3 linked regions of the Homo sapiens genome follow. The protein of the gene in region 2 interacts with the protein of the main gene of each other region in a biochemical or structural test. Each region holds a gene or a part of one and is shown on either strand. Other genes may lie near its edges. The genes, in order: EPB41L2, FKBP2 and RAB3C.

Region 1 (3,648 bases), on a different chromosome or scaffold from region 2:
CTGAGGTAGGTATGATTTTTAACCCCTTACTACAGCAAACGAGGCTTTGAGAAATAATTTGCCCAAGGTCACAATGGCATATGTGGCAGTCTAACCAGCATCAAATAGAGTGGACATGTTACTGATTCCTTCTAATCAATATTCCATCAAAGAAATTTGTAAGGAAATAAATGCACATTCATTAAGTTCACAGGTAAGAATATGAGTGGCCAGGATTATATCAGAATTCAGTTTAACCTTGACAGTTAGGTAAATGGGGGTCAACTAAATGAATTCAATTGAATGGAAAGAAGTACAATGGGAGATAGGGGAGAATAAATGATGAAAAGTGCAATAGGGTGAAAAAATTAAAAAAAAAGAGAAAAACAAAATACTCTTAAAACTTCCATCTTCTAATCTCGAAAATAAGAACTGAAACATCAGTTCTCAATCTTTTCTGTTTCCCAAAACCCTTTCAAAAACCACTCCTAAAGTTCTCTTTCTCCCTTAACCTGTCTCTCTCATCCACTTGTGCACACACACACAGAGATGCTGCACACACACAGGAGTGCATGCACATGGGAACACAATACCTCACTTACAGTCTCAGGCAGTTTATGCACCCATGAGGCCCAAGAACCCCACTCTCCACCCCAGGTCAGGAGTCTGAACCAAATAATCTCCCTCAAGGTAAATGAATCTAGGGTGAAAAACAAGTAGCTTCTGGACAAAAAGAGAAAGAAACAAAGAATTATGGCAGAGTGTAAATCACATTTTAATTTTATGTCTTCAAGCTACTGGGATATGTACATATATCAGTAGAATGTAGGAAACTCTGAAAAATATGAGTGAATTCAGCACTGTTGTTATAATGGCCCAGCCCTGAAGCTCATCAGCAGGTCTGGAAACGTAAATACAAGGGCTTGGAAAAGGTGACTTCAGAGTTGGTAATCAGAACTATATGACAAGCTTTTTAAAACCACAATTATCCTGGAAAAAGGCAACTGAAGGGTAACATAAGTTTTTAAGTATTTGAAAATTCTTTCATGAAGGTTGATGGTGAGGCCCTAAGAGCAAAGCAAGAGGAAACTGGTCTCTTCAGAAAGATTTGATTTAAATGCATGAACTACCCTACCTGACCTAGGCAATAAGGTCCGATAGATGAACAGTGACAAAACCACTTTGGGAGCCTTTCCATGCCTCCTAACCTGGAAAGAACTAAAATGATCCCCATGATGCCGAACTTAGTTATCTATGCAAAATTTCAACTTGGCTATCTAAAGCAAAACCTTATTTAAGATACAGGTCAGATCTCAGGAAAGATTGTTCTTATCCTTCAATTTATTCCAGATTATTTGGGAGACAATCTATGTACTTTTTGACTTTATGGCTCTAATAAGGTAGAGTGAAAATATGCAAAATTCAGAGAGGTATCTGTGAAGTGAAAACATGTTTCCATTTTAAAGATAACTGAGAATATGAAATTAGCTCAATTGCAATCTTTGAAGAAAAAATATCCAGAAGCAGTATGAATGCACTCATAGATCACATGAAATCTATTCCAATGCCAAGAAGTAAGAGACATCACTTTAAAATAAGAAAATTCAGAAAGCCTCTGAAATTCTAATTAAAATTAATACTATCCCAACACCATGGAAATATATAGCCTATCTACTCTCCTAGACATGAAAAACATGCCTCTAAGAAACTTACAACACAGATCCCAAGCCAACCACAAAACCAGGAGAAACAATATCAGTGGTTAGAAAAGCAAATAAACATTACCGACATGATATTTCTACATGAAACATTACCCATTTCTATGTCAACTCTATCAAAGAATCTTCACTAAAGATTCTTCACCTCTAATATATTAAAGGTTCAATGAATTAATTCATCAAATATTTATTAAATACAATGAGTAGGTGCTTCACATCACAAATACCTATAATATTCCCTCTCTCATATGAAATACACACACATACACATACTTTATAGAAAAAGCTACCAAAATCTATTAGCTATAACTATAAACCGGCTGGGTGCGGTGGCTCACACCTGTAATCCCAACACTTTGGGAGGCCAAGTCGGGTGGATCACTTGAGGTCAGGAGTTCAAGAACAGCCTGGTCAACATGGTGAAACCCTGTCTCTACTAAAAATACAAAAATTAGCCGGGCATGGTGGCACACGCCTGTAATTCCAGCTACTTGGAAGGCTGAAGCACGAGAATTACTTGAACTGGGAAGACGGAGGTTGCAGTGAGCCAAGATCACGTCACTGCACTCCAGCCTGAACGACAGAGTGAAACTGTGTCTCAAAAACAAAATAAAAACAACAACAGCAACAAAAACTATAAATCATTTCTAGATGATAACTGAGATTATTTATTTCTTTCCTTCTTGGCTTACCTATAACTTTTTTTTTTTTTTTTTTGAGATGGAGTCTGGCTCTGTCACCCAGGCTGGCGTGCAGTGGCGCAATCTCCGCTCACAGCAAGCTCTGCCTCCCGGGTTCACGCCATTCTCCTGCCTCAGCCTCCCGAGTAGCTGGGACTACAGATGCCTGCCACCACGCCTGGCTAATTTTCTGTATTTTTAGTAGAGACGGGGTTTCACCGTGTTAGCCAGGATGGTCTCGATCTCCTGACCTCATGATCCACCCGCCTCAGCCTCCCAAAGAGGTGGGATTACAGGCGTGAGCCATCGCGCCCAGCTATAATTCCTAAACAACTCTAATAGCTAACTTGGAGGCCATTTCCCTATAGTTAATGACATCAGGCATTGACTCCATTTTAGATTTTAGTCTAGGGCACTGCCCACGCAGAGAAATGATACAAATCTCATAATATCAAGTTGCTGGTTTATGCCAAAACATGGCATCCCAAAGGATGTTCTGTCTAGAATTGGTGACAGAATCGCATACAAATCTTCTATTTGCTCAGACATTCCAAAGACATTAGAACTGTTTGCATGTTGAGAGGAAGAGACTAGGGCTAAGAGTGGATCTGCTGACTCCTAACGGTTCAGCCCTGAGATTCCAAGATTCTATAAAAGAGCAGTGAATTAGGGTTTGGCTATTATTTGCTGACTACGAAAGCCAGCATAAACATTTACTTCAGGCTTTGAAATCTGTAAGGGTACCCAGTGGTTAGGTACAGTAATTCTGAATCTGAAAAAAACAAGCCCACTGGAAATGTTTCTAAATAAAGGTGGGATGGAGGAGGTAGGCACATTTCTTTTGTTTTCTCCAAGTAAACAGCACAGATTTTAGAAATGCAAAATGTGACTCAGTGGTATTGATCCCTATAAACTGTTTATTTGCCTTATAAAACTAGTAGCAATTCACACTTTTCAATAAAAAGCCCACACATAGCTTTTAAACAGGCTACTTCAGTTCAAAAAAGAAAGAAAAAGGCCCATGTCTTCAGCTGGGATTACAGGCGTGCGCCACCATGCCCGGCTAATTTTTGTATTTTTAGTAGAGACAGAGTAGAAACAGAAACAAAACAAAACCTTCAAAAATATTTAGCATTCTGCTATATAAAATATAAACCCTATATTCCTAAATGAAATGGCAAAGATACAACCTTTGTAGTTCACCAGCCACAGTAATATGAGAGGGGTGATTCAGGGCAGAACCTGATGTTAAACATAACTGTACAATATTA
Region 2 (4,265 bases):
AGCAGCTCCACCTCGAACACCAGGGTTGCACCACCTGTAGGGGAGAAGGGGAGTCAAAATGCCAACCAGGGCCACAGGGAGGTGGGCTGGCTGCAGGTGATGGGAGGTATCAAAAGGTTTACTACCTGGAATCTTTGGGGGAGCTCCCCGCTCTCCATACCCTGTTGAAGATGCACAAAGAAACAGTCAGTGATGGCCAAGCTCCCTTCCAGTGTGGGCAAAGGGAGAGTGTTCCGCCCCTCTCAGCAAGAAGGCCAGAAATGGAGAAGGGTAATGGAGATGGGAAGGGGGTGCCAAAGGCCTGGCAAGGGCAGAGTGGGGCCACTACAGCTGAGTGCTTCAATGATCTTGCCCTGTACTCACTGCTAGACACAGCCAAACTTGGAGGAGGCATGTATTGTAATGAATGGATACGGTGAAGACCAATGAAAAGCTGAAGCAGCTTTCACCCTTCCCAGTCACACACCCCAAACTCGCTCTGCACCCTCAGGAGGGGCCTCTTACCTAGCTCGGATGGGATCACCAGCTTGCGCTTTTCCCCCTCACACATCCTGCAGGAAGACACATGCTCAGCCCATGGCAGCACCCAGGGCCCTTGTCTTGTATCCCTGGGGCTTGCCTCCCACAGCTTACCTCCTGGGCGGTGGCCATGCACGCCCCCACTCCCAAGCCCATTCCCCCATGACTCACCCCAGCAGCCCCTGGTCCCAGCCCTTGATGACCTGGCCTGTGCCAAGGGAGAAGACAAAGGGCTGGTTCTGGGGCAGGCTGCTGTCAAACTCTGTCCCATCTTCCAGCTTCCCCTGTGGAACCATGAGAAGGCCAGTGAGGAAGAGGGGACCACCCCTGACACCCCCTCCCTCAGCTGCTTTCCCCATCAAGCTGCCCCCCCACGCCCACCCACAGCCCTGGTGGTCAGTCCTTTTTGTTTTTTGAGATGGAGTCTCTGTTGCCATGGCTGGAGTGCAGCGGCGTGATCTCGCCTCCCTGCAGCCTCTGCCTCCCGGGTTCAAGCAATTCTTCCACCTCAGCCTCCCAAGTAGCTGGGATTATAGGCGCCCGCCACCACGCCTGGCTAATTTTGTATTTTTAGCAGAGAAAGTTTCATCATGAGGCCAAACTGGTCTCAAATTCCTGACCTCAGGTGATCCACCCGCCTCGGCCTCCCAAAGTGCTGGGATTACAGGGGTGAGCCACTGCGCCCAGCTGGTCATAGTTCTTTAAGAGGACAGAGCCTTGGGCAGCTCACAGTACACTGTCACTGCCTGCTGGTGCCCACCTGGGCAGTAGGCAAGGGCAAGGCAGAACCATGGAAACTGGCTTAGAGGCGAGAGGGGACTTGCCCAAGGTCACCTACCTGGCTTATGGAGAACCAGACTCCCAAGCACTCTCTGGTCCTCGGAAGCCCCACCCACTCCCAAAAGGCCCGCCCAACCCACTCACCGTGTAGTGCATGTGCAGGACATCCCCTTTGCGCGATTTGATGGGACAGTGGTCCACCCGCTTCTTGACCCCGATCTGCAGCTTCCTTTTGCCCTCGGCCCCCGTGGCCGTGGCCACGGCGCTCAGGCAGATGGACAGTACTGTCAGGACCCGGAACCAGCTCAGCCTCATGTCTCTGTGGGCACAGACCCCGACCGACCGACTGAACGTGGGGGAGGGCAGGGAGAGTATGGAACACGGGTAGGTAACAGGAGGGTTCCACCGCCACTGTATCTTCCTTGCCCCGGGGGATCCCCTTTGTCCCGGGTCACCGCCCTCTCCCCCGGGCTCCGGGGCCACACTTACCAGTCCAGTGAGAAGGGGGCTTGGCCGAGGACCCCAGCAGCGGGGGGAGGGGGTCAGGGGAGGCCACAGCAGCCAGGGACCCGCCCCTTTGCTCACCCCCATACCTTCCCTCCCTCCCAGTCCCCACCTCCGCTCTTCAGTTCCCGCCTGTCCCTTTACGCAAAGTCCAGACCCTATCTGGCTGCACTGCAGTTGCCCCGACTGGGCGGCCCCACTCACGCCACACCCAGCTGCCCCCGGTCCAGCACACCAACACCTCTGCGGCCGCTGCAGGGGGCCGGCCCCGAGGCACCCACACATCCCCACTGGGTGGCTCCGAGGAGCCCGGGTCCTCGGGAGATACCCCCCAGCCTGGCCCTGTGCTTCCGCCCGGGGCGCCGCCCCAACTCTGAGCCCTTGGGGGTCTCCGGGGCACCCAGACTGGCCCTGTGTCTGCTGGCCGCCGAGCCCGCTCCACCCACACCACCTCTCCCGGTGGAGTTCTCGGCCTACGGCGTCCCCAAGCCCGGCCACCACGGAGACCACCCCCGCGAGGACGCCCGGGGCCATTACTCGGGCCAGGCTCCTCACTTGGCTCCTTGGCACCGCCCTTCGGAGGACGCGGTACCGCCCCCGGGCCTGCAGCCCCGCCTTCGACAGAACTAGACCCCTTTTCCGGAGCCGTAGCCACGCCACTCACCGGCTGAAGCCCCGCCCCCAGCGCCTCCGCTCCGTCCCCCTCTGCTTCCGACCCCGAGGCTCCGCCTTTCACCTCCTCCAGCTCCTCCTTCAAGAGCCAGGCTCCGTCCCCCGACCCTCCTAGCTCCGCCCCCCGCCGCCGGGCTCCGCCTTCCACTGGCACCAGCTCGGAGGTCCCACCCGTCCCGGTTCCACGTCCCGCCCCGAGTCCCAGGACTCCGCCCCGTGCGGCGTGAGAACCCTCCCCCTGCGGCATCTCCGGACAGCTCCGGCCCCCACCCCCAATTTCCTCGTCACCTAGCTCTCGTTGACACTCGGAGCCCGGTCCGCTTCTGCCCGGCCTGATCCAGCCTGCCCTCTTGCACCCCGGCTCCCCCCAGCCCGGGCTGTGGCCCCCGCTCACCTCCTCGCCGCGCCCCCGGAGTCAACCCCGGTGGTGCTGCCGCCTCTGCGCAGGCGCGTCCTCGTCGCTACCAGGCCGGGCCACGCCGCCCTCCCTTATTGGACCGTGCGAAACCCGCGGCCACACGCCCGCTGGCACGGGTCTTTCCCGAGCCCCGCCCCCGCGACGCCGCTGCCCTGCGTCACTTCCGGCGGAGCGGTAGTCTGTAAGGTTAGGTGAAAGTGACTTCCGAAAAGGCCGGAGACACTTCCGGCCGAGGTGATAGTAAGGTCAGGCGGGCGTGGGTTCCCGGAGGGGGTCTTGAGGCGCCATTTCAAGTCGCCCCCAGCCTCTCCCACAGCACTCCTGTTTTCCCGGGCCTCATCATGGCCCACGGCCCTCAGTCGCTGTGGAGCCTGGGCTTCACAGTGACACTCACGTTTGAACTCCCGGTCGGCTGTGTGCTTGGTAGAATTTGTCATCCAATACAGGCGTGTAACACGGGCTTGATGACACCCACCCCACAGGGCCCCTGCAGGACCGAGATGATGTCCAATGACAAGCCCTGGCTTCCAGCCAATGCTCCTGCCCACATCTCTCTCCCAGGAGCCAGGCTTACCTCTACCTGTGCACCTGGGCTGTGACTCATGACTGGAATGATCTGGCTGGGCCTGTTCCCCCACCAGACTTATTTTCAGGCGCCCCAGCAGCCACCAAACATCTGTCAACTGAAGTAATGAACCTGCAGTTGAGAGGCAGCTAAACCTAGGTTGAAGGTTAGGGAGACAGCTGAGTTGAGGTCAAATCCCCCCGGCCAGTTAGCCTTTCTGAGCCTATTTCCTCAATTGTAAAAGGAAGACAATCATGATGCTGACCTCAGAATCGAGCGAGGAGAAAGTGAGGAGGTGCATGTGAAGCATTGTGCGTGACTGGTGGGGCTAACTGGGCTCTGGAGGCGGTAGCTCTGGGGCCCTAACCCCTTTCTGCCTCATGCTAATTGACCTATGGCATGTCCAGTGACATCATGACTGAGAAAATGATTTGAAAGTAGTAATCGCTGTCAGGAATTGTCTCCTGGTTCAACCCACTCCTGCCTTAGGCCCACTAAGATCATACCCACATGCTCTGACCCAACACCTCAGAGAAAGCCTCCATTAGGGTGGCTGCCCCTCCCAGTGGCTGCCCAATTGAGTTAACTCTGCCCCTGAATGTCCTGCTTCAGCAGGCAAAGCAGTGGTGCCCAAGGTTGGCCTTTCATCCACCCCAAACCACTCAGCCCTGGGCACTGGAGGCTGCAGGGAGAAGGGTAGGGGCTGGGCTTGGGCTAGGATAGACAAGTCAGGAGAATCTCAGGCAGCAACTGATGATGAAGGAAGCTGCAGGATGCAAGGGAGGCGAGGGTGGAGAAAACTGTGTG
Region 3 (3,648 bases), on a different chromosome or scaffold from region 2:
CCATTTTCTGCCTCTATTTCATCAGTAAATTGGAGAAAATAATGGTACCTACTAATGGATAAAATGAGTTAAAATGTATAAAATGCTCTGAATAGTACCTATTATATAGTAATCATTCAACAAATGTTAGTTTATTATTGCTATTGTTGTTATCATAGCATTTTCTAGTTTGCTTGGCACTTATGCCTATCTTTTCTCATTTTAGCCTCATGATAACCCTGTAAGTTAAGTAAGGCAAATGTCATAAATAAGGAAATTAAGGATTTTTTTTAAAGTGACTTGTTCATGGTCCCAAAGCTAGAAGTGTTGCTAAGTGGGGCTAGATCCCACATCTTTTGACTGATAATCTATCTCTCACCATATCATGATGTCTCCTTCTCAGCATGCTGAATAAATAGGTGCCATTATTTCTGGCACATTGTCTCTTTAATAGCCACATATTCTTAGGGTTCCAGTTAAGGTTGAGAAGCTGAGATCATGTTGGCTTCTGAGATCAAAGATAATTTTACTGACCTCAAATTGTATACCAATATGATGATAGGGTGTTGAGATGCCCAGGGTAAAGGAGTCACATTTGATAAAACCTTGTGTGGATTATCATCTTTTCATAATGGCTAAATCTTTTATGATACCGTTCAAGCTCAGTGACTTCCCAAATCATACTAATAAGTACAAGAAGTGTTAGCAAAAGAGATGAAAAAATTGAACTTGTAAATGAGACCTTTGTACCAAATTCTTGGATGTTTTTTCTTCAAAGGCTCATTCAGGGATCTTGAATTCTTCAGTGGGTTCTTGGTATCTTATGACATAAAGCATCCTCCCATTAGGTCTGGGAAAATCACCACAAGCATGCCAATAGTTCTGATATCTTAGCAACAAGGATCTTGCTTAGATCCATGCTTGCCTTTCCCCAAATCTGGATTGAATTACTGGAAGTTGAACGATCTAGCTCTAAAGACTGCACAAACATTATAAAAGAGAGCTCTGTTAACACCAGATGGCCTTATCTGCAGATTTTTAAAATGTAGACTATAAGAGAGCCATATAAGCATTGTCCAGAGAGACAAAAGGAAAGAAAAATACAAGCCACAATGGTTTGAAATATCCAGCTCTATTTTATAGAACCTTGACTCTACTGATGTTCTTCAACCCCAATCCTGCAGTTATTCATGTGGATTTTAACGAGAGTAGCTAGTGAAATTCAAGCTCAGATGTAGTCATTGAACCAAATAGTATAACGACTAAGTTGGAGATTTTAACTCACGACACTTGCCTTTTGTTGTCTAGCTTCAATACTATTTAAGAAAATAAGTATTTCTAGGTTATTTGAGGGATTTTGACATGGATGCAAAATATTAATCTGTTCTTTTTCCTTTGGCCCCAGGAGCTGGGATGAAATCACATGATTTCATCATTTTGAATCCATGCGGCTCCTCTGAGATAGGGCCAGATGTAACCAGAAGGATTTATAGGGTGTAAAATTCAGAATGGATTAGAAAAGCCTTTCTATGTTCAGCCCAACACATCCTAAATCAACGTCCCCTGAATGGACCAGAGCAATCTCTGGCTGGCCTAGTGGGGAGGTTGTCATGGCAACTGACTGGCAAGCTCAGCCAGTGGAATGTGAATGCAAACAATAGAGTGATAAGACTGTGTACAGAGCAGCATACTAAGGCTGCTTCTGCCCAGGTACAGTGGCACATAGGTGAAAGTGTGAAACTGTTGCTGCATTTTGTAACTTCTTAACAATCTCTGGCAGCTCATTTGAAATTTACCAAGTGCCCTTTCCCAGATGTTGGTAAAAACATTCCTGCTGATAGATAACAGAAGCTATGGAAAAATCAGCACCCAGCTGATAGGTGCAGAGGTATACAAAGCCCTGGAGGGCTGTTGGAATAACACTACTCAAAAATTTTCTGAAGGAGGTTGAAGCAGGTTTAAGGTAAATCTTATGACTCTTCAGTGCCATCTTGTGTCCTTTTAGATACTGACAATTTACTAGAAGCCCACTCTCAGACCGATCATTAGGCAGCAGCAGGGCAGACATGGAAAAGTTAGAGCTGGATTATATTGGAGCTTGGTATTCCCTTTTACAGCAGAATATGCACACCAAGCCTTCTGAGCTTTAAATTGATTTAAAAAATTGAAATTAAAAATTTTGGTAGAATCTGGAAATAAAAACAGAATAAGATGCCAAATAATGCCATGAAAAGATTGCAAGAGTCTACATGGTGCGCTAGGGGTTGAGGGAAGGGATGGAAAATCTAGATTTAGTGTTGAAGATTCTTACAGATAGATTTGGTATTGAGGATTCTTACTGTTGTCATTACTAACTCTTGCAATAGAATATTTTTAATCTATTCAGTCATGCTGATAATGCAAATGAATCAACAGAGAAAAATAAAATGTGAACATCACCAATTCCACTTTATAACTCTTTTGTTCATGGTTAATGGAGTAAGAGATGGTAGCATTTGCTTAAATGGTACCTCATGCCCACCTCTAATCTCTTACCTACCCCAAACCTACCACCCACTGATGTCTCACCATCACCTCATCACTATTGAAAGCCATAATCAAGTCCCATTTAATTTCAGAAATGCAAAATAACCAAGATGTGTTTCTGTGTGTTTCTTCCAGGGTTTGAGTTTTTTGAAACAAGTGCCAAGGACAACATTAATGTCAAGCAGACATTTGAGCGCCTTGTGGATATCATCTGCGACAAAATGTCAGAGAGTTTGGAGACTGATCCTGCCATCACTGCTGCAAAGCAGAACACGAGACTCAAGGAAACTCCTCCTCCACCGCAGCCCAACTGTGCCTGCTAGTGTCCCCGTGCACACAGGCAGCTCCAGGGGGCTCTGGTTGCCAACAAACAGCATTTGTAAATGGTCTATTAGCCTTCATTTATACTGCCTAACAATTATTTGAAGGAATAAATTGATGTCAATGGCTCGTACGCATTCAATTCTTGGGAGCTTTCCTGTTTAATATGTGGCAAATATGTGATCTTAAATTTATAAGGACTATCCATCTATAAACATCTGGTACCTGCATGTGACTTGTTATTTATTTGTCTGCTAGGCTCTTTTTGTTTCAAATTTGTTCTCAGACTACTTCTGGGACATCAGACTATAATCTCACTACAACTGGCTTTTGTCCCATTGATTCAAATTATGCTATTCACTTGTAGGAATGATGACCAAGGAATTGCTTGTGTGTGTGTGTGTGTGTGTGTGTGTGCACGCATGCCCGCATGCGTGCAGAGGAAGAAGTCACAAGACTTCATTTGCTTTACTCTTAGTTGAAAATCAAATGGAAGTTTTTCTCATGATTAGGGACGCTGTCACGAGTCTGGTCAGTTTACTGTTGGGAACTGTGTCTTTATTTCACTGTTATTAATAACTGAGATCATTGGCCTATAAAGAAATTGAAATGTTGTTTTTAAGGTCCTTGCAATTTTCCTAAGTCATTAATATTACCTGACTGGGGCTATTTAACAATAATCTTCGTTTACACATTTAAATAAGCAAGTATCTACCCAGGACTGCTTTTTCCACTGATCCTTCCCAATTCTGTGAATATTCAACATCATTGAACAGATTGAGACATATCTACTGAATGCCAGTTATGCAACAAGCATTTTAA

The links.
Region 1: the proteins of FKBP2 (region 2) and EPB41L2 form a complex in vitro, tested with the Homo sapiens proteins (one study listed by BioGRID).
Region 3: the proteins of FKBP2 (region 2) and RAB3C form a complex in vitro, tested with the Homo sapiens proteins (one study listed by BioGRID).

What each region holds. Positions count from the first base shown.
Region 1 is NC_000006.12:131,056,719-131,060,366, forward strand, and holds part of EPB41L2 (band 4.1-like protein 2), read right to left. Parts: intron 1-3,648. UniProt on the Homo sapiens protein: Required for dynein-dynactin complex and NUMA1 recruitment at the mitotic cell cortex during anaphase.
Region 2 is NC_000011.10:64,239,737-64,244,001, reverse strand, and holds the start of FKBP2 (peptidyl-prolyl cis-trans isomerase FKBP2 isoform 1 precursor), read right to left. Parts: upstream 2,908-4,265; 5' UTR 2,870-2,907; exon of another isoform or gene 2,723-2,869; coding exon of another isoform or gene 1,925-2,722; exon of another isoform or gene 1,789-1,924; intron 1,646-1,788; exon of another isoform or gene 1,619-1,645; coding exon of another isoform or gene 1,615-1,618; coding exon 1,444-1,614; intron 804-1,443; coding exon 691-803; intron 552-690; coding exon 505-551; intron 162-504; coding exon 126-161; intron 35-125; coding exon 1-34. Other genes in the region: uncharacterized protein LOC114841035, read right to left, coding at 1,925-2,722. UniProt on the Homo sapiens protein: PPIases accelerate the folding of proteins. It catalyzes the cis-trans isomerization of proline imidic peptide bonds in oligopeptides.
Region 3 is NC_000005.10:58,848,524-58,852,171, forward strand, and holds part of RAB3C (ras-related protein Rab-3C), read left to right. Parts: intron 1-2,640; coding exon 2,641-2,828; 3' UTR 2,829-3,648.